4 separate regions of the Homo sapiens genome follow, and all the other regions are linked to region 1. The links come from fine-mapping of genetic effects on gene expression. A gene starts in region 1. Each other region holds a variant in brackets. All regions are shown on one strand. Distances are from middle to middle. Region 1 holds the start of CHST10 (carbohydrate sulfotransferase 10). Region 2 has its middle 30 kb from the start of AFF3. Region 3 overlaps LINC01104 (long intergenic non-protein coding RNA 1104). Region 4 has its middle 26 kb from the start of PDCL3.

The links. PIP is the estimated chance that this variant, and not a neighbour inherited with it, causes the effect.
Region 2: its variant is fine-mapped to the expression of CHST10 in whole blood (INTERVAL, PIP 0.91).
Region 3: its variant is fine-mapped to the expression of CHST10 in whole blood (INTERVAL, PIP above 0.99).
Region 4: its variant is fine-mapped to the expression of CHST10 in whole blood (TOPMed, PIP 0.95).

Annotation. Positions count from the first base shown.
Region 1 is chr2:100,415,670-100,420,819 of GRCh38, reverse strand. CHST10 (carbohydrate sulfotransferase 10) reads left to right here and starts at 3,152. Exons shown (of 7, transcript NM_004854.5): 1 at 3,152-3,446. RefSeq lists silencers at 3,047-3,496, 3,507-3,656.
Region 2 is chr2:100,169,801-100,174,950 of GRCh38, reverse strand. No RefSeq gene overlaps it. Among named protein-coding and RNA genes, the nearest start is that of AFF3, 30 kb to the right of the region's middle. The variant C/T (reference allele first, on the strand shown) is at 2,465.
Region 3 is chr2:100,250,289-100,255,438 of GRCh38, reverse strand. It overlaps LINC01104 (long intergenic non-protein coding RNA 1104), which reads right to left. Exons shown (of 3, transcript NR_103730.1): 3 at 3,955-5,150. Among named protein-coding and RNA genes, the nearest start is that of LINC01104, 45 kb to the right of the region's middle. RefSeq lists an enhancer at 1-432. The variant G/CACACAG (reference allele first, on the strand shown) is at 2,772.
Region 4 is chr2:100,534,167-100,539,316 of GRCh38, reverse strand. No RefSeq gene overlaps it. Among named protein-coding and RNA genes, the nearest start is that of PDCL3, 26 kb to the left of the region's middle. RefSeq lists an enhancer at 933-1,484. The variant G/A (reference allele first, on the strand shown) is at 2,283.

The sequences.
Region 1 (5,150 bases):
AAAAATGCCCAAGACTGGGTAATTCATAAAGAAAAGAGGTTTAATTGACTCACAGTTCTACATGGCTGGGGAGGCCTCAGGAAACTTACAATCATTGTGGAAGGCACCTCTTCACAGGGCGGCAGTAGAGAGAATGAGTGCTGAGTGAAGGGGGAAGCCCTTTATAAAACTATCAGATCTTATGAGAACTCACTCACTATCAGGAGAACAGCAGCATGGGGGTAACTGCCCCCAGGATCCAATTACCTCCCACAGGGTCCCTCCCATGACACGTGGGGATGACAGAAACTACAACTGAGATTTAGGTGGGGACACAGCCAAACTGTATCAGTCAGGAACCAGGGTCAAAGGCCAAATACATATTTCTTATTACACTACAACTGGTTGATCACTATACAATATTTTTTTACAACTAGTTGTTAGTACTACTTCTGATCTCATCAGAAAAATCTTTAAATATTGGGAAGCTGTCAAACTTACAGTGATGGATACAGGTTTTGCAAAAGTCTGATTTTTCACTTGAAAGCTTGAATGTTATCACAGACAACAAACACTATCATTTGTTTTTCTTGAAGTGACAGGCCCATGTCATTCATTTTGGAGGAAATGTCTGCCAAATGCCCAAATCTGGGTAACTGCAGTTTGTCTGTCAGTTCTGCTTTCAAGTAAAACTGGCGTTCCATAAAAAAGAGCTGCAGCTTGTGCATTGCAGGCCATTGCACAATGGCACGGCCTTCAGCAACCATCATCCTTGGGATGCAGCAGGATTGTTTCTGTGCATTTCCCACCCTGTCATGAGGGACATGACTGCTTCACGGGGGACATTCTTCAGTGACACTTTGTGTTTGTTTTTACTGCAAGTGCATGGTGGTGAAGGATGCAGTTACTACTGATTTGGTGTTGTCCCACTGCTGGGATTTGTGCTTACTTTTGCACAATCAGAGCAAATGTCTACATTGTAAAGAGGACAAATAATGTCCCAGTTCAACTATGAAAACAGTTTTGTCATTGCAGATCCTCTGAAAGGATCTTGGAGACTCCTAAAGATCCACTTTTTGGAGATCACTCTTTGCGAACTGCTATTTTAGAAACAATCCTCCTGCTACAAAGACTAAATATTTGGCTCACACGTGTAATCCCAGCACTTTGGGAGGCTGAGGCGGGTGGATAACTTGAGGTCAGGAGTTTGAGACCAGCCTGGCTAACATGGTGAAACCCCGTCTCTACTAAAAATACAAAAATTAGCCGGGTGTGGTGGCACGCACCTGTAATTCCAGCTACTTGAGAGACTGAGACAGGAGAATCACTTGAACCCAGGAGGCAGAGGTTGCAGTGAGCTGGGATGGCACCACTGCACTCCAACCTGGGCGACAGAGCGAGATTCCGTCTCAAAAAAAAAAAAAAGACTAAATACTAATATTTTCCTAGACATTCATTTATAGGAAAAAAAGAGGAACTATTTTGAAAAACTCCAACAAAAAAAACCAAAAAACCTCAGTTACCTTAGTTGTCAATGTGTAAGCCTCTAGAACAAACTCCATCTTTTAAAGTTTTGAACAGTATCTTGGGAATGCAGTAATAACAGTGACAATAGTGTGTGTTTGTTGCAGTGTTTACTACTGCGGGATGACTGTGCTTTGTATTTTAAATGCATCCTCTACAATATTCTTTAGTACCACACTTTTTTTTTTTTTTTTGAAGGAGTTTCACTCTTGTTGCCCAGGCTGGAGTGCAGTGGCGAGATCTCGACTCACCGCAACCTCCGCCTCCTGGGTTCAAGCAATTCTCCTGCCTCAGTCTCCCGAGCAGCTGGGATTACAGGCACGTGCCCCCACTCCTGGCTAATTTTTTTTGTAGTTTTATTAGAGACAGGGTTTCTCCATGTTGGTCATGCTGGTCTCGAACTCCCGACCTCAGGTGATCCACCTACCTCCGCCTCTCAAAATGTTGGGATTACAGGCGTGAGCCACCACGCCCGGCCTAGTACCACATTCTGTAGATGAGAAGACTGGGACACAGAGAGATGAGAGTGTGACAAGGTCAACAGTCATATGCAGTGACTAAGGCTCTGAATCCACGTGGTCTGATTCCCAGAGCCTTGATCCTTAAATCCTGCATAATATGCTGCATCACATCCAAGCTTCACATTTACTTACTTCTTTTCTGCCGTGCACGTGTATCGATTCAAATCCTCAAAGGGAAACCCAATGTCTCATCTCAACCACAGGGCCCCAAAAAAGGGCTCAGTAAACGTCTTCTGCATGAGGGACAGAACCTTTAAACCATGATTAGTAATGGGGCTAGAAGTGAAATACTCAAACAGCCAGCTCCCTCAATATTATTAACTCATTAAGGAGGGAACCAATAAAAAAGAAAAAAAACAAAAACAAAAACGCTTGTTCCTTGAAAGCTTTGAAAAATTGTGTGTGTGTGTGTGTGTGTGTGTATACATACACGTATCTATTTTACTTGTTTGCTAAATAGACACAGATATAGTCGGGTAGTTAACAAACATGTAGGTTGTATAAAAATAAAACTAGTTTATCTTCTTTGGGGCAATAAAATCCCAATACCTTTGAGGTTGACTCAGGCCTTATCCATTTCTGCAGGTTAAGAAGTTACAATTCTTCAGGTCTGTAAACTGGTCAGGCCGTTATCATTGTCCTTCGTTAATCCACTGTACCTAGACAACAGTTACATCCCCAACCCGGACAGCCAAGGGGGTTCTTTAAAGAATAGAACGTCCCCCTTTTACTAAGTAGGCTTATTAGAAAATGCTAGAAGTTACCCTTAACGCAAGCAAGTGGCCTTTTTCCAAGTTGGGGATTTAAGAAATTTACTTATCTATTTTTTGTATTTTTCCAAGGTGGTTTTGTGTGTGTGTGTGACTTTGTTGTTGTTTTGGTTTGGTTTTTTGCCTTTTTCCAAGTTTGGGATTTTTTTTCTTTCTCAAAAAGCGAACCTGTTTTCTGGATGGAGGCCCAGCGGGACTTGTTCCGGCCGCAGGTCTCGGTCAGAAAGAACGCTTTTGCAGCGGCAGAAAGGGAGACTCGGGATCCGGGCCTGGGGTCCCGCGGCCGCGCCCCTCCCCACTCCCCGCGACCCGCTGGAACGCGCACGGCCGGGGACGGCGGCGGGGACGCGCGCGGGCAGGCGGCGCGCACGGCCGGATAGGCGCGAGGGGGCCGCGTGAGGCGGTGCCGGCGTTCTGGCCCCCAAAGCCGGTCTAGCGCGCCGGGCGTCTTCCTTACTTCCGCTGCCGCCGCCGCCACATCCCGGGACCCGACGGGCCGCGGCGCGGAGGCCTCGGGGCAAGGTGGGGCGGGCCTCCCGAGCTCCCAGGACCCCGCGCGCTTCGCCCACAGGCCCGGCGAAGCCCGACCCGCGCGGCGCCCCCAGGGCCAGGGGAGGAGCCTAAGGACCCGGACGAGCGCCGCTCCAGTAGGGTGAGCTCGGGGACGCGCAGGCGGGTGGGTTTCAGCGCCTGGGCCCCTCTCCCCGCCGCGGGGCGCACGGAAAAACCGGGGAACCCGCGGGTTTTGTCCTGGCGAGCCACATCCCGGTGTGTTTTGGCGACTTGAAGACCTCCCTAGTTCGCGGGAGTAGCGGGAAGAGCCTTCCTCGCGTTAATTATGCAATAAGAAGGCGTCCTTGTGCGGGATGCTGTGACCCGCGGAATTATTGATATTGTGCGAGCCTACAATTTACTTCTTTCATCCTTGGCTGAGAATTTGCGTTTGTAATTGTAGATGGAGAGAGGAAGAAAGGGTTCAGCTTGGGTCCAAGGAGCATGCAGAGGAAGGCAGGGAAGAAGGAGCATGTGCAGCTTCGGTGCGAGGGGAGTCAGGGGTGGGAATGCACGTTCCCTGCCTGAGGGGCCCCGGGGTGCCCTGAGCCTCTGATCTTCGCTGTCAGGAGGCCTGTCCGAAGTTGGAGGTTGAGGCATGCAGTTCTGCACTTCTGGCTGGGAAGGTGAACCAGGTTTTCCAAAATGTCATTTTTGCTTTCCAAGTCTGCAAGGCAGGAAAGGGTTGGGCAGTGAATGGAAAGTAGTGCAGCCAGGTTCTGGTTAGCTCAGCGGCAGGACTGTCATAACGGTGGGTTTTTGTTGTTGTTGTTGTTGTTGTTGTTTTGTCTGAAAACCAGAGTCTGGGGCTTTGGGCCATGAGGAGTTGGGTTATTGCATTGCTTAGAGTGCCAGAGTGAGAAATGTCTCAGACGCTGTTAAAATTAGGCAGCTCAGTTTAGCTCTGGCTCTCTGATAACCAACCACCTCCTCCTTCACTCTTTTCAGTGACTGGGTTAAAATGAAAAGACACAAAGAGAGAAGTGGTCTTTTCCCTTCCCTCCCCATTATAATTAAGAGCTTAGTCCATCTTGGCTCAGAATTGGAATTCAGAATTCAGAATTGCTCTTGACCCTGAAGAATAGAATCTCAAAGAAATACCTGAGCAGAAAATTCTCTTCTTCGCTGAAATGAAAATTGGAGTGTTTGCAAAACTGAACAAAGAAAGGAAAGAATTTGTAAACATCACAGGCAACTTGCAGTTATATTCGGATCATTTTTCAGTGTTTGAGGAGTTCATACAATAAAAAGGTGAGAGAGAGCCAGGAATAGAAACAGGGGAGAGAGGTGGTTGCAGGACCTTAGAGATTGCAGAAACCCAGGAGTTCATTTTCTTTTCATACACTTCTGGATAACCTGGATGTGAGGACCATCAAATGCCGTACATGATGTTTCTAACAATGATGGACCACATATACAACAGTGGTCCCATAAGACTATACTACCTTATTTTTACTCTACCTTTTCTAATTTTAGATACACAAATACTTACCATTGTATTACAGATGCTTACAGTATTCAGTACAGTAACAGCAGTACAAGTTAGTAGCCCGGGAGCAATAGATGATTCCATATAGCCTAGGTGTGTGGTCAGCTGTACCATATAGCCTAGGTGTGTGGTTAGCTGTACTATCTAGGTTTATGTAAGAACGCTCTGATGTTTGCAGAAGAACATCGCCTAACGATACATTTCTCAGAAGGTATCCCTATTGTTAAGTGATGAATGACTGTATATAAAGCTTAATCTTTCAATCAACATAATAGGAAATTGCTTTTAATTTTAGCATTGAGTTCTTAGAGTAAA
Region 2 (5,150 bases), 250 kb after region 1:
TATTGAAAGAAAAGTCAGGATCCATTACTTTTTCCACCCAGAGTTCAGACACAGCAGCATTTCCTAGCATTGACCACTTTCTTTTTCTTTTTTCTTTTCTTTTCTTTTTCTTTTTTTTCTTTTTTTCTTTTTTCTTTTTCTTTTTTTTTTTTTTTTTGAGACAGTCTCTTACTCTGTTGCTGAGGCTGGAGTGCAGTGGCTCGATCTCGGCTCACTGCAACCTCTGCCTCCTGGGTTCAAGTGATTCTCCTGCCTCAGCCTCCTGAGTAGCTGGGACTACAGGCATGCACCACCATGCCCAGCTAATTTCTGTATTTTTAGTAGAGACTGAGTTTCGCCATGTTGGCCAGGCTGGTCTCGAACTCCTGACCACAGGTGATCTGCCCACCTCGGCCTCCTAAAGTGCTGGGATTACAGGCATGAGCCACTGTTCATGCCCACACCCTGGGGTTTGCCCTCCAATCCCATCCTGACAGAATGCTGGTCTGAGAACGCCAGGCTCAGAGAATCATCTTCTTGTCTGTCCTGTGGGTCACGATCTCGAGGTTTCACCAGGCGCCCTAAGAGGATGAAGTATCTTGGCTCTGTTGAAGCCTGGACACAAGAATGTCCTTGAGAAAGCATTTCTGTAATCTCTATTACTGGAATGTGGATTAAAAAGGCTTGCTGGAGTGAGCTGCTAAATCTTTACAAATGTTTAGGATAAAGTACAAATGAGAAAAATATGTTCAGCTAGGCTTTTTGTTTCTAATGAAAGAGTGCTCTTAATTCTTTTCTACTGAAAATAGAAGTGTTGTGATCCAGCAGAAGGACCGCAGGCCAGATGCTGGGGCCATTGTCCTCAAGGGCAATGCTCTCGTTGCTTTCCAACTCTGTCTTGCTTCCTCTTTCTTTCTCTCTCTTTCTCGATCTCTCTCCCCCTTCTCATGACAAGGAAAGCCAATAATTTTGCTTTTATTTAACAACAGTCTATTGACTATGAGCCACAAACACATTCTTCTGGGCCACTGGCAAACATTTTAGATGGTGCTAGGTATTTTGGTGGGCTAAGGTTTTACTGATTAGGACAGCTAAAAAGAAACTGGCATACAGTGGCAGTTAAGAATTGGCTAACTTTACTGGCAACTAAAAATTGCAGAGGAAACTGAACATTGGTGATTTTATAGAGTTTTTAAGTAAAATTATTATGGAAGTATAATATGCATTTAGAAAATTATACAAATCATATGTGTATAACTAAGTTTTCACTAAATGCATACATATATGATGATCACCCAGATCAGGAAACAATGCTGCCAGCACCTCAGATGCTCTCTATGTGCCCTCTTTCATCACTACCATTATCCCCAAAGGTGACTGCTGTCAAGTCCTCTACCATCATCAGTTTTGCCTGGAATTATAAGTATGCACTCTCTTGTGAATGGGTTCTCTTAGGCAAAATTCTGTTTGTGACATTTATTTGCATTATTGCATGTAGCAGTAATACGTTCATTGCTATTGATCTAAGGCAGGGAACGGCAGACTACAGCCCACCATGGCCTATTGTTGTATGAGTCGCAAGCTAACAATGACATTTATTTTGTAAAGGATTGTAAAAAAAATGAAGAATATGCAACAGAGGCAATCTGTTATCTGCAAAACTGAAGATGTTTATTTTCTGGCTCTTGACAAAAAAGTCTGCTGATCCCTACTGTAGAGTATTCTGTTGTAGGACTATACCACAATTTATTGATTCATGTATTGATGCTGAAGAACGTTTGGGCTGTTTTTCGTTTCAGCGTCCATCAGTAATGCTGCTATAAATATTCTTGCATGTGCATTTTGGAGTGTGTGTACACATTTCTGTTGGGGATATACCCAGGGGCATAAGTTATGCAGATATTCAGCATTAGTAGATTTTACTGTCAAAGAGTTGTATAAATCTACACACTCATCAATAGTGATTGGGAGTTCCAGTTGTTCCACATCTTTATCAACACTTGGTATTGTCTGTCTTTTTTATTTTAATCATTTTGGTGTATATGCAGTAGTATCTCCTTGTGATTTTGGTTTGTATTCATCTGATGTCTCATGATGTGAAACGCTTTCATATTAATATTGAACATTTGTCTTCCCTTTGTGATATAGCTGCTTGCATGTCTTGTCCAAGGTTTGTCTGCATTTTCTTCATTTATTGGTATAATTTCTTTATCAAATTCTCTGTTAGATATGAATTGCAAATACTTTGATCTATTCAATGATTTGCACCTTAACTCCCTAGCATTCTATTCTTTTGAGGAACAGAAATTCTTAATTTTAACATAGTCTAATTTATCAATTTTCCCTCATAGTCAATGCTTTTTGTATCCTATTTAATAAATCTTTGCTTAACCCTGTGTCACAAAGATATTCTCCAATGTTTTCTTCTGGAAGTTTTATGGTTTACCCTTCACAGGTAGATTTGCAAGTCACCTGGAATTGGTAA[C/T]TTTGTATGGTGTGACGCAGATGTCAAGATTTTTGTCCCTTATGGGTATCCAATTGGCCCAGCACTGCCTTTGGAAAAAATGCCCCCACTGTGCTGCAGTGTCACCCTTGTCATAAATCAGTGACAATGTACATGCCAGTCTGTTTCTGGACTCTCCATTGTTTCCATAGAAATTACACTGTGGGTATGGCCAGGCACAGTGGCTCACGCCTGTAATCCCACCACTTTAGGAGGCCAAGGTGGGCAGATCACTTGAGGCCAGGAGTTTGAGACCAGCCTGGCCAACATGGCAAAACCCTGTCTCTACTAAGAATACAAAAATTAGCCGGGCGCAGGGGTGGACGCCTGTGGCCCCTGTGGACATTTGAGCCCAGGAGGTGGAGGTTGCAGTAAGCCATGATCATGCCACTGCACTCCAGCCTGTGTAACAGAGCAAGACCCTGTCTCAAAAATAAATAAATAAATAAATAAGGAATTACTCTGTGGTTAGATAAGATCTTCATCTTTCTTCTTATTCTTCAAGGTTGTCTTGACTCTTCTTGGCCCTTTGCATTCCCATATAAACTTACTGAATCAATAGGTCAATTTGAGGAGAAATGAGATTTTTATAGGATAAAAAATAAATATGGTATATCCTCCATTTATTTAGGTCTCCTTTAATTTCTCTGTATACTATCTTGTAATTTTCAGTGCAGAAGAATTACATAACTTTCATTAAGTTTATTCCTAGTTATATGACGTTTGTTGATTTTTTTAAATTGTATCTTATTAAATTTTTATTTTGTGATTGTTCCTCATATGTAGAAATACAATTGATTGCTGTATTTTGACTCTGTTTTCTGTGTTCTCACTACATTTATTATTAATTCTGAGTGTTTGTGGAATCTTTCCTACATAAACAATCATGCTGCTGTGAAGAATAACAGTTTTATTATTTCCTGTCAATTCTTGTAATTTTTTTCTAACCTTCTTGTACTGGCCATATTATATAGTATAATAGTGAACAGAAGCAGTGAGAGCAAGGCCAGGTACGGTGGCTCATCCCTCTAATCCTGGCACTTTGGGAGGCCAAGGTGACTGGATGACTTGAGGTCAGGAGTTTGAGACCAGCCTGGCCAACATGGTGAAACCCCGTCTCTACTAAAAAACACAAAATTTAGCTAGGTGTGGTGGCGGGTACCTGTAATCCCAGCTACTCGGGAGGCTGAGGCAGGAGAATCGCTTGAACCTGGGAGGCAGAGGTTGTAGTGAGCCGAGATCGCACCACTGCACTCCAGCCTGAGCGACAGAAAGAGACTCTGTCTCAAAAAAAAGAAAAAAAGAAGCAGTGAGAGTGAACACCTTTGTTTCATGCCTAATCACAGGGATAAAAGCTTTCACTAGCTTTTCTATAATGTTTCTATAAGAAACATTAAGTAAAATGTTTCTTGTAGACTATTTGTAAATATTTTGTCATTCTAAGGGCGTTCCCTTTTATATCTAGTTTGGTGTTTTTTAAAGTAAATAAATCAGTCTTGAATTTAATCAAATGCTTTTTATAAATCTGTTGAAATAATATGATTTTTCACATCTATTATGAAATTACATCCATAACATGAATTACATTGAACTATTTTTTCAGATGTTACACTAACATTGCATTACTGAAAAAAACCAATTCCTTGTGATATGTTATACTCTTCATAAATTGCAGGATACAGTTTGTTAATATTTTCTTTAGGATTTTGCATCAGAAGAGAGATTAGCTGACTTTTTTTGTATTGTCTTCTTGTGTCTGGTTTTGCTATCAAGAATATGCTGGGTTTATAGAACATGTTGGAAAGTATTTTCTTTTCATGTGTTCTCTAAAAGAGTTTGTGTAAGAATGGTATTATTTCTTCCTTAAGTTCAGAAGAATTCACCAGTGACTACCTCTAGGACAAAAGATATCTTTGTAGAAAAACTGTATTTAAATTTATTAACAGGTTTACTGAAGTGAATTGACAGATGAGAATGCACACATACCTAAAGTAAATAATTTGATAAGTTTTAACATATGTATACACCCGTGAGACCATTACCAATCACCACAATCAAGATAATGGAAAGCTCCAGCATTCCCACAAGACTGCTTGTGCTCCTTTGTGGTACCTCCCACTGCCCTCCCCATGCCTCATCCCTCAGCTTGATGACACTTTCTATTATTTGCCTTTTCTTTAAATTTAATAGAGGCAAAATCATAAGTCTGTTCATTTTGTCAGTCTTCTTTCACTCAGCATAACTATTTTGAGATTCATTTGCATCGTGCTTTGTATTGATAATTCTTTTTTATTTTTTTTTGGCTGGGCAATACTTCCACTGTATGGACACACTGCAATTCATTTAACCAATCACCTCTTGATGTGTGTTGGTTTCTCATTTGAGGCTATTGCAAATAAGCCTGCTAAAAAGATTTGCATACAATCTTGGCGTGGACATACGTTTTCTTTTCTTGTCTAGTCTATCTAGGAGTAGAATGGCTAGGCCATATGGTAGGTATGTGTTTAACTTTCTAAAAATCTGCCAAACTGTTTTTCAAAATAGTTGTGCCATTTACATTCCCACCAGCAATGTATGAGAATCGCGGTTGCTCCACATCATCTCCAACACTTGGTACATTTGGACATTTTAATCTTAGACATTCTAATCTATGTGTAGTAATATCTCA
Region 3 (5,150 bases), 170 kb after region 1:
GGGAGGTAATTGAGGCATGAGGGTGGAGCCCCCATAAATGACATTGGAGTCGTTATAAAAGTGACCTCCGAGAGCTCTCTTGCCCTCTTTCCACCATGTGAGGACACATGAGAAGCTGACAGAGGGCCGTCGCCAGAGCCTGACCATGTGGCCCCTGACCTGAGACTTCCAGCCTCCAGAACTGTGAGCATCAGTGTTTATCTTGAAGCCTCTCAGTCTATGGTAATTTGTTATTGCAGCCCCAACTGACCGAGACGCTAAGGGCTTCACCGAAGGGGAGAGGCCAGGCCGGGTCCTGAGGCAAGGGTAGGAGCTTGCCAGCAGGTGGTGGTGAGGCCACAGAGTCCTGATTCAAGGCAGAGGCAAGAACTTCACGTTGGAGAGCGAGCCCAAGGCCGGGAGGCTGAGGGGAAATTGGGAGAAGTCAGGAAGGCTGGGTTGTAGGAAGCTAGCCATGGCCACTTGGATCCAGAGGGCCCCTCTACAGACGGGAGAAAGGCCAAGAGTCACACCAAGGTACCACACAGTCACCTGACATGACACATCTGGCCGGGCAGGGGCTGCGAGAGCCGCCCATTTGGGCAGGGAGCCGTCATTCAGGACTGACATTGTTCACAACGGAGCTTGTGGTGGTGATGAAAAGAGGGCTAAACTTGAGTTAGTTTTCTTCTCATTTTAAATTCTCTATAGACAATGCACCTCCTGCTTCCCTTGTTCAGGCCAGCCACTCCCACCACCATTGGTTAAAAGATAATAAGGCCGGGCGCAGTGGCTCACGCCTGTAATCCCAGCACTTTGGGAGGCCGAGATGGGCAGATCACGAGGTCTGGAGATCAAGACCATCCTGGCTAACATGCTGAAACACCATCTCTACTAAAAAAATACAGGTGTGGTGGCGGGCACCTGTGGTCCCAGCTACTTGGGAGGCTGAGGCAGGAGAATGGCATGAACCTGGGAGGCAGAGCTTGCAGTGAGCCAAGATCCTGCCACTGCACTCCAGCCTGGGTGACAGAGCAAGACTCCATCTCAAAAAAAGACAAAGAAGAAGAACCTTTGGAACAGCTGGGTCATCCGGGCAGAGTGTTTGGTTTGGTTGCTGTTTTTTTGGGTGTTTGTTTTTTGTTCATTTAAGCCTGGATTCCTTAGTATATATAGGGTAACATTCCCTTAAGACAACTTAAATACAATGTCAGCCACACATGCAAGCCACATGGGTAATCGAGTAGCCATATTTTTTAAAAGTGAAGAGAAACAGATGAAACCAATTTTAATATTACTTTATTTCACTTAATATATTAAATATCTAAAAATTAGCATTTCAACATGTAATCCATAGAAAAACTATTCATGAGTTATTTTCCTTTGTTTTGTCTTTGAAATCTGGTGTGGGTTTTCAACTCGGCACCCACCTCCGCTCGACTCTCCACTCTTCCAGCGCCCAACAGCTGTGTGCAGCAAGCAGCCTGGGACAGGGCAGCACAGCCCAGCGCCTCTAAAATGAGCCCAGATCAAGCTGTGGCCACTCAGACCATATCAGTCCCTTTGAGTTTTTGGTCTGCTTGTTTTTGTCATCCAATAGGACCTTCACTGAGTCAGCAGGCATGTACCAATAAGCCCTAAATATTAAGAACACATTGATGTGATTCCCAGGGTAGCAACATCTCCTTACTTGAAAAGCACAACCCAAACGCAGGCCTTGCAAAGTGGAGTAGCCGATGCTGAGAGAAGAGCTGCTTCCACCGCTTTCATCAGCACCATAATCAAAAGGCATGAGAGGCTGCAGCTGAAGGGAGGGGAGGGAAGTGGTCAAGACCAGGAGTGATCAGCTGGGACCTCTACAACCAGCGTTCAGGGTGGACATGGGTCTCTCTGCTTTCCTGCTCTCTTTGGCTCCACTGTTCATTTTGAAAGCCATGCCGCTTCATGTCGGTAAACGAACTGGTCCTAAGGTCAGCCCAGGGAAAAGCATGTTAATAGATCCTCCAGACCTCAGGTTCTAAAGAACTGAACAGCATTTTCCTAAGATGCCTCAGGCGCCACCTAAGCCACTGGGCAGGAAAGCCTGCCAAGTCTTTTTCAGGGCCAGAAGCAAGGTTTCACCAACCGGGCCCCTCCACCCTGGCCCAGGGACTCACATTCTACGGAGCTGGGGCTCCGCTGAGCACAGCTCTCCCCTGGGCTGGAACGCCCATCTGGCGGCCTGCCCTGGCTCAGGAGGAGACAAGCCTGGGAGGTCATCCATGAAAACTCCACACTGCCTCCTGGGCACTCGCTTCTTTCTTCTGACCACCAAAACATATATACACAGGACTCTTCGACTTTTAGAACGGCTTTGATAATCCCTGCAAGGAGAGACTGGGTTACAGAAAGCACAAAAGTGGTCAATTTGCAAAGGTTCCCAAACCTTGGCGAGTTCTTCTAGTTCCTGACTTCTACCTGGGATGGCAGATGGTAACTTGACAGGACCCAGGGACGGATTTTTGAAATGAAATGTTGCATACTACAGAAAAGCCCTGTGAATATAATCCCACCTTTGGCCCCATTGTTGACTCTATCAAATCCTAACATGTTTATGGATTTGATTCATATTTATTTTTAAGACGTGAACAATTATAGGTAGTATGATATAATAAAGAATAATAAAAATAATAGGTTTGTGAGTGCTGGTGTATCCTTCCCCCAACGTCTGTGTGTGTGCACACATGCACACACAGGCACATGCATTCATGCACACTCACACACACACACACACACACACACACACACACACA[G/CACACAG]GTAGTGAGTGAGCCCTCAGATCCGGCCTTTAGCCTGGGAAACTCCTCATTCTGTACAGGCTGTAGAGACCACCGACCATGGAGCTTGTTTGAGGAACTAAAGATGTAAAAAGGAATATAAGCCAGTGGGGTGCGGTGGCTCACACCTGTAATCCCAACACTTTGGGAGGCCAAGGTGGGTGGATTGCCTGAGCTCAGGAGTTTGAGACCAGCCTGGGCAACACGGTGAAACCCCGTCTCTACTAAAATACAAAAAATTAGCCAAATGTGGTTGCGTGCACCTGTAATCCCAGCTATTCAGGAGGCTGAGACAGGAGAATCGCTTGAACCCGGGAGGTGGAGGTTGCAGTGAGCCGAGATTGCGCCACTGCACTCCAGCCTGGGTGACAGAGCAAGACTCCATCTCAGAAAAAAAAAAAAAAAAAGGAATCTAAGCCGTTCACTTTACCCTTAAACTTGGCTACATACTTTGTGCTGTTTGTCTGCTGTTCCTCAGTAAAAAAGTGAAAATCACCTTAACCAAGCGTGTGTTCTTACTCACCCCAGTCCTCAAACACTGACCAACCTTCCACAGTGTCCTATATAGATATATATATCTCCTGCAACCTGTGGTTAGGCCCAGCTTTATCGGTAATTAACATTGTGTAACTGTGCCTCAATTTACAGGTCTATCCTCTTTCCAGTGAACATTTGGGTTCTTTCCTTTTCCCGAACTAAACAAAGCTACAATTATTAACATTGTTTATGGCCGGGCTCACTGGCTCACATCTGTAATCCCAACACTTTGGGAGGCCAAGGCGGGAGGATCACTTGAGGTCAGGAGTTTGAGACCAGCCTGACCAACATGTAGACATGACCATGTCTCTATTGAAAATACAAAAATTAGCCAGGTGTGGTGGTGCGCACCTGTAACCCCAGCTACTTGGGAGGCTGCAGCAGGAGAATTGCTTGAACCTGGGAGGCACAGGTTGCAGTGAGCCATGACGGTGCCACTGCACTCCAGCCTGGGCAACAGAGCAAGACTTCATCTCAAAAAACAAACAAACAAAAAACATTGTTTACCAGTGCTGTTGTGAAACACTTTTGATTTCAGGTGATCTGATGTAATTGAAAGGTGTCTCACTGTGGTTTTTATTTGCCTTCTGATTCTAGAACAGCTGAGGATTTTTTTTTTTTTTTTTTTGACAGGGTTTCACTCTGTCATCCAGGCTGGAGTGCAGTGGTACGATGGTGGCTCACTGCAGTCTCAACCTTCTGGGCTTAGATGATCTTCCCACCTCAGCCTCCTGAGTAGCTGGGACTCCAGGCACATGCCACCACACCCAGCTAAGTTTTTATAGAGATGGGGTTTTGCCATGTTTCCCATGCCAGTCTCGAACGCCTGGGCTCAAGTGATCCTCTTGCCTTGGCCTCCCAAAGTGCTGGGATTACAGAGGTGAGCCACTGCGCCTAGCCACAGCTGAGGATCCTTTCATAGGCCATTGATCATCCTGCTTTCTTCTATGAATTGCCTGTCATGCCCTTGGTATGGACAGTTTTTTAACGTAGGAGTGTCATGCCTGACATGGTAAAGGAAAGGTCCAGTATCTTCCAATGGGAATGTCTTCCCAGCAGAATGACCCCAACAAAGGAGGCATTCGGTAAAGGCATGGACCACCCCAAGAGCCAGGGGATTTGTTCAGTCAGCACCTGAGCCTCCTCTTGCAGGTGTTCTAACAGAATGAGGCCAAATGTTGACTTCACTTGCAGCGATCCCTCTGCACAGTCCCTTTGAGGAACCTAAAACCTTTGCAGGTGGAAATGACGTGTTTTCAAAGTGAACACGTGCATCACCAGGTTGCGCTGAGGGAAAACTATTTCTATTCACTTTCTGTGGCAGCCGAGACAAATTACACAAAATGTTGACGTAAAACAAGGAAAGTGTATTATCTCACAACTGTGGAAGCCAGAAGTCCAAAATCAAGGTACTGGCAGGGCCATGCACCCTCTAGAAACAGCGCGGGGAAGCTGCTCTTACCCCTTCCAGCTTCTGGTGGTTGTCGGCCTTCCTTGACTTGTGGCTGTGATTCTCCAATCTCTGCCTCCCTCTTCACAGGATCTTCTCCTCTGTGTGTCTCATATAAGACACTTGCCATTGTGAGATTTTTATGAAGGGAGTGTGTGTGTGTGTGTGTGTGTGAGAGAGAGAGAGAGAGAGAGAGAAAGAGGCTGAAGGAGGGTGAAGGAAGGGCTGGTATTTTAAGCCATCCATGACCTTTTCACTGTTCTGCTGTGTGACCTGGGCCCGTTAGTTCACCACTCTGAACCTCCTCTTCTCCACCCTATGAACTGGATCCAATGACCGCCAGCTCTTGGAGTCTGGAGCATTGATGTGGGTGT
Region 4 (5,150 bases), 120 kb before region 1:
AAGATGTCCTCCAATAGGAGGTGGAAAACAGCCTGGCTTTACTTGGATCCTTTTCTATAAGGAGCTGAATCATCTTCAGAAATTTTAATATTAAAATGTTAATATTTAAATTATATATATATATATATGTATGGTTTTTGCGACGGAGTCTATATTATTACTACAAGCACGCGCCACCATGCCCGGCTAATTTTTGTATTTATAGTAGAGACGAGGTTTCACAATGTTGGCCAGGCTGGTCTCCAACTCTTGACTTTGTGATCTGCCTGCCTCAGCCTCCCAAAGTGCTGGAATTACAGGCATGAGCCACCACTCCAGCCTTAATAATATTAAAAGTCAGCCCTGGTACACTGAGAGCTCTTGGGAGGCACATTCAATTTTAAAATCCTCTTGCTTTTTGCTAACATAATCACTCAGCTATCAGAGATAAGGGAAAACAGGGTGGGGTTGGGTTGGGTGGGACGTGGTGTTATTTCAGAGCCTAGATTTTTCTGCAACGTGACATCAGTGTTTCCCAGCCTACTCTATGAAACTTTTCAAAGTTGTATCTTTTTTATAGTTTTGAGAATCAGGGAAGCAAAATATAGCATTTCTTACCCATCTAGTGTTGAGTCAGCTATGATGTTTTGAAAGAAGGACAGGACCAGTGTTATGAAATAATTGAAGCTTATATCATGTGACAACAATTATCGTAATGTTGTGTGAGTTATTAAGAAATTATTTTAGGCAGATAGAGAAGAAAAGGGGTCCTTGGAAAGTTGTTTCTTTTAAAGCAGCTCCATAAACTTTTTTTTTTTTGGAGACAGAGTCCTGCTCTGTGGCCCAGGTTGGAGTACAATGGTTCGATCTTGGCTCACTGCAACCGACACCTCCCGGCTTCAAGCGATTCTCCTGCCTCAGCCTCCCGAGTAGCTGGGATTACAGGCAACCGCCACCATGCCTGGCTAATTTTTTGTATTTTTAGTGGAGACGGGGTTTCACCATGTTGGCCAGGCTGGTCGGAACTCCTGACCAGAGGTGATCCAGCCCCCTCAGCCTCCTAAAGTGCTGGGATTACAGGCGTGAGCCACCACCCCTGGCTGAAACGTTTCTTGTCTAGCAGGAAAGCCCCAGCTCTTAGAGCCAAGTGGCAACCTTTGATATGCAAATGCAAGCCATTAGAAACTGAGTCCAGCCAAACAAGGCGATTTCCGCCCTCTTCTCCTTGCCCTTGCCCTGACCTGTGCCTGACAATATGGCCGCCCTCACATATCCCCACGTGGGTACAACATCCTGACGCCTTGTATATTAAAAGGCTAGGGTCGGAGGGCCAGTTTTTTTGCTGGCTAGGTGAATGACATCCCTGGTCAAACCAATCCCCTGAGCCCTATGCAAATCAGACACCACCTCCTCCAGCCTACTCATATAAGCAGCCACTTTTCTGTGGCACATGGGGTCTCCTCTCTTGGATTTGGAGTCCCCTCTGACTGTCACTGAATGGGGGAGCTTCTTCCTTCTTTCTTGCCTATTAAACTTTCCACTCCTTAAAACCACTCCATGTGTGTCCATGTCGTTTTACCCAATTCGTGGGAGACAAGAGCCCTGGTGGTGTTCCTCCACTCATCGGAGCTGTATCAGTCAGTGAAGATTGTATCTTTATTTTTATTTTATTTTATTTTTGAGACGGAGTCTAGCTCAGTCTCCCAGGCTGGAATGCAGTGGCCTGATCTCGTCTCACTGCAACCTCCACCTCCTGGGTTCAAGCAGTTCTCCTGCCTCAGCCCCCTGAATAGCTGGGATTACAGGCACCCACCACCATGCCCAGCTACTTTTTGTATTTTCAGTAGAGATGGGGTTTCACCATGTTGGCCAGGCTGGTCTCAAACTCCTGACCTCACGGTCTGCCCGCCTCGGCCTCCCAAAGCACTAGGATTATAGGCGTGAGCCACTGCGCTCGGCAAGATTGTATCTTTAAAGAGGTTTTGGATATCAGTGTTATTAAAGGAAGAAAATATTTATCTAAAATCTCCCTTTTTAAATTTTTTGAGAGAGACTCACTCTGTTGCCCAGGCTGGAGTGCAGTGGCGCAATCTCGGCTCACTGCAGCCTCTGCCTCCCAGGTTCAAGCGATTCTCCTGCCTCAGCCCCCTGAGTAGCTGAGATTACAGGCATGTGCCACCACACTTGGCTAATTTTAAGTTTTTTTGTTTGTTTGTTTGTTTCTTTGAGATGGAGTCTCACTCTGTCGCCTAGGCTGGAGTGTAGTGGTGTGATCTCCACTCACTGCAGCCTCTGCCACCTGG[G/A]TTCAAGCAATTCCCCTGCCTCAGCCTCCCGAGTAGCTGGGATTACCGGTACCTGCCACCACACCCTGCTAATTATTGTATTTTTAGTAGAGACGGGGTTTCACCATCTTGGCCAGGCTGGTCTTGAACTCTTGACCTCGTGATCCACCCGCCTCCCAAAGTGCTGGGATTGCAGGCGTGAGCCACCACACCCGGCTATTTTATAGTTAATAATTTAATTAGTTGAAATTCTTAGAGGTCTAATCTTGCTATTTGCTATGTAAGGCTATGGGGACACCCTTCTCTTTGAATAGAATTCTCTAAATCTGGAGACTGTGATTTAGATAAGTAGCATATATTAGAGAAAACGTTTTTAAATAGTTAATGCGATCCATCAAAGGGAGATTTTAGGCTGGATGCGGTGGTTCGCACCTTTGATCTCAGCACTTTGAGGGGCCGAGACAAGGAGGAAGAGGTGGTTAACTATTAAAGTGTTTTGAATGCTACATGTATTGAATGTTTGAGATGAACACAGCCTAGCTATTTCCCCTTGTGCCAACCACCTCAGACAAGGCTTTTAATCAATGGAAATACATACTTAGTGCAAACATTTTCAATAAACTACATCCATTGCTTTGCTTTATATTTATATGTTGCCAGGAAAATTACTTAAGCATCTTTGTTCATCTGTTCTAGCATATGTAAAGATTCAAATAAGAAATGTGGGGGCACATGTTCTCAGGATTTCCTGAGGCTGTGTCATGGGCCATTGTCACATTTGGCTCAGAATAAATCTATCCAAATATTTTACAGAGTTTGACTCTTTTTGTCAACAAGATCTGATGCTATCCCTAGGTAGAGAGTGTGGGGACTGAATTGAAGGCACATAGCTGCTGTCTGCTACTTGGTGGTTGGGAAAAACACTGGAAACCAAAAATAAAATTCTAAGTCCCCCAACCGACTGAATGGACTGCTCCTTTTGGCCAAGGGCACTCCAGAGTTCATCTGAAATTCTAGCTCAGGCCATAATAAGAAAGGGGGAGGATGGGGAATGCCTCATTACTCACCTCCCTTTGGAATTCAGGTACAGCTGACCAGCATTCACAGTAAAACAGAAGTCTTAGGACTGACCAAGCAATACGATATCAGTATGACCCATAGCAGGTCCTTAAAAAAAAATGTGTTCAGCAACCTTCATGAAGGAATAAAACTCCACTTGAACTAATCACATCGAAATTCAAAGCTTTTTGCAATATTCTTTTTTTTTTTTTTTTTTGAGACGGAATCTCGCTCTGTCGCCCAGGCTGGACTGCAGTGGTGCTATCTCAGCTCACTGCAAGCTCTGCCTCCCGGGTTCACACCATTCTCTTGCCTCAGCCTCCCAAGTAGCTGGGACTACAGGCGCCCGCCACCACGCCCGGCTAATTGTTTTGTATTTAGTAGAAACGGAGTTTCACTGTGTTAGCCAGGGTGGTCTCGAACTCCTGACCTTGTGATCTGCCCGCCTCAGCCTCCCAAAGTGCTGGGATTACAGGCATGAGCCACCACGCCTGGTCTGCTTTTTGTAATATTCTTTTTTTTTTCTTTTTTTCTTTTTTTTTTGAAACGGAGCCTTATTCTGTCACCCAGGCTGGAGTGCAGTGGCATGATATTGGCTCACCGCAACCTCCACCTCTCGGGTTCAAGTGATTCTCCTTCCTCAGCCTCCTGAGTAGCTGGGATTACAGGCGCCTGCCACCACACCCAGCTAATTTTTGTATATATTTAGTAGAGATGGGGTTTCACCATTTGGGCCAGGCTTGTCTTGAACTCCTGATCTTGTGATCCACCCGCCTCGGCCTCCCAAAGTGCTGGGATTGCAGGCGTGAGCCACCGCGCCCGGCCTGCAATATCCTTAAATCTTATTTCTGTACTACTCAAAACAACAGTTTGTTTTTCTCCTAAGGGATTAAGATAAAAATAATCAAGAGCCAGGCAAGGTGACTCATGCCTGTAATCCCAGCACTTTGGGAGGCTGAGGCCGGTGGATCACTTGAGCTCAGGAGTTCGAGACCAGCCTGGGCAACACAGTGAAACCCCATCTCTACTATAAAAAATACAAAAATCAGCCAGATGTAGTGGTGTGCCCCTGTAATCCCATCTACTCGGGAGGCTGAGGTGAGAGAATCATCTGAGCCTGGCAAGTCAAGGTTTCAGTGAGCTATGATGGCACCATTGTATTCCAGCCTAGGTGACAGAGTGAGACCCTGTCTCAAAAAAAAAAAAAAAAAAGATAAACAAAATCACTCATTTTCAAAACAAGGGTTTGTTGCTTCTGACATCTCTTTAAGTTAGTAAAATTGAGAGAGTCTGAAAGGGGGTGACCCATTTCCCTGTCCTAACGAGCTGGGCCAAATAGCCAAAGGCTTGATTGGAGGCACTGCAGGGCCAAACATCGTGACTTGTTGCCTCAAGTCCTCTCCATGGTCTGTGGGACAGATGGCAGCAGTGCTCTATGGAGTGGCTGGGTCTGAGTCAAGGTCAATGGCACCAACTCGAAGCACTTGCGAACTGAGGGGAGCTGGTATTTGGGAAGGGTCCAGGGGTCTGAAGGAGGCAAGTGGAGAAATGAACTTTCTAAGCCAATGCACCAATGACTGCAGCAGCTTTTCCTGTGGTGTCCCTGGCCAATGACATTGGAACACCCAGTGACATGGAGCAGGGTGGCCAAAAGCACTACCAAAATCACTGAGACTATTCTCCCTCAATTTCTTAGATCTTGTGTAGGAAATAAAATCTAGAAATTTAGGAGAAAAGTAGCAAGCATTAGAGCTGTCTTTCATCTTTGCATAATAACCCACCTAATCAATAGGAAGCTAGTTGAGTAAAATATTTTTATATTCATTCACT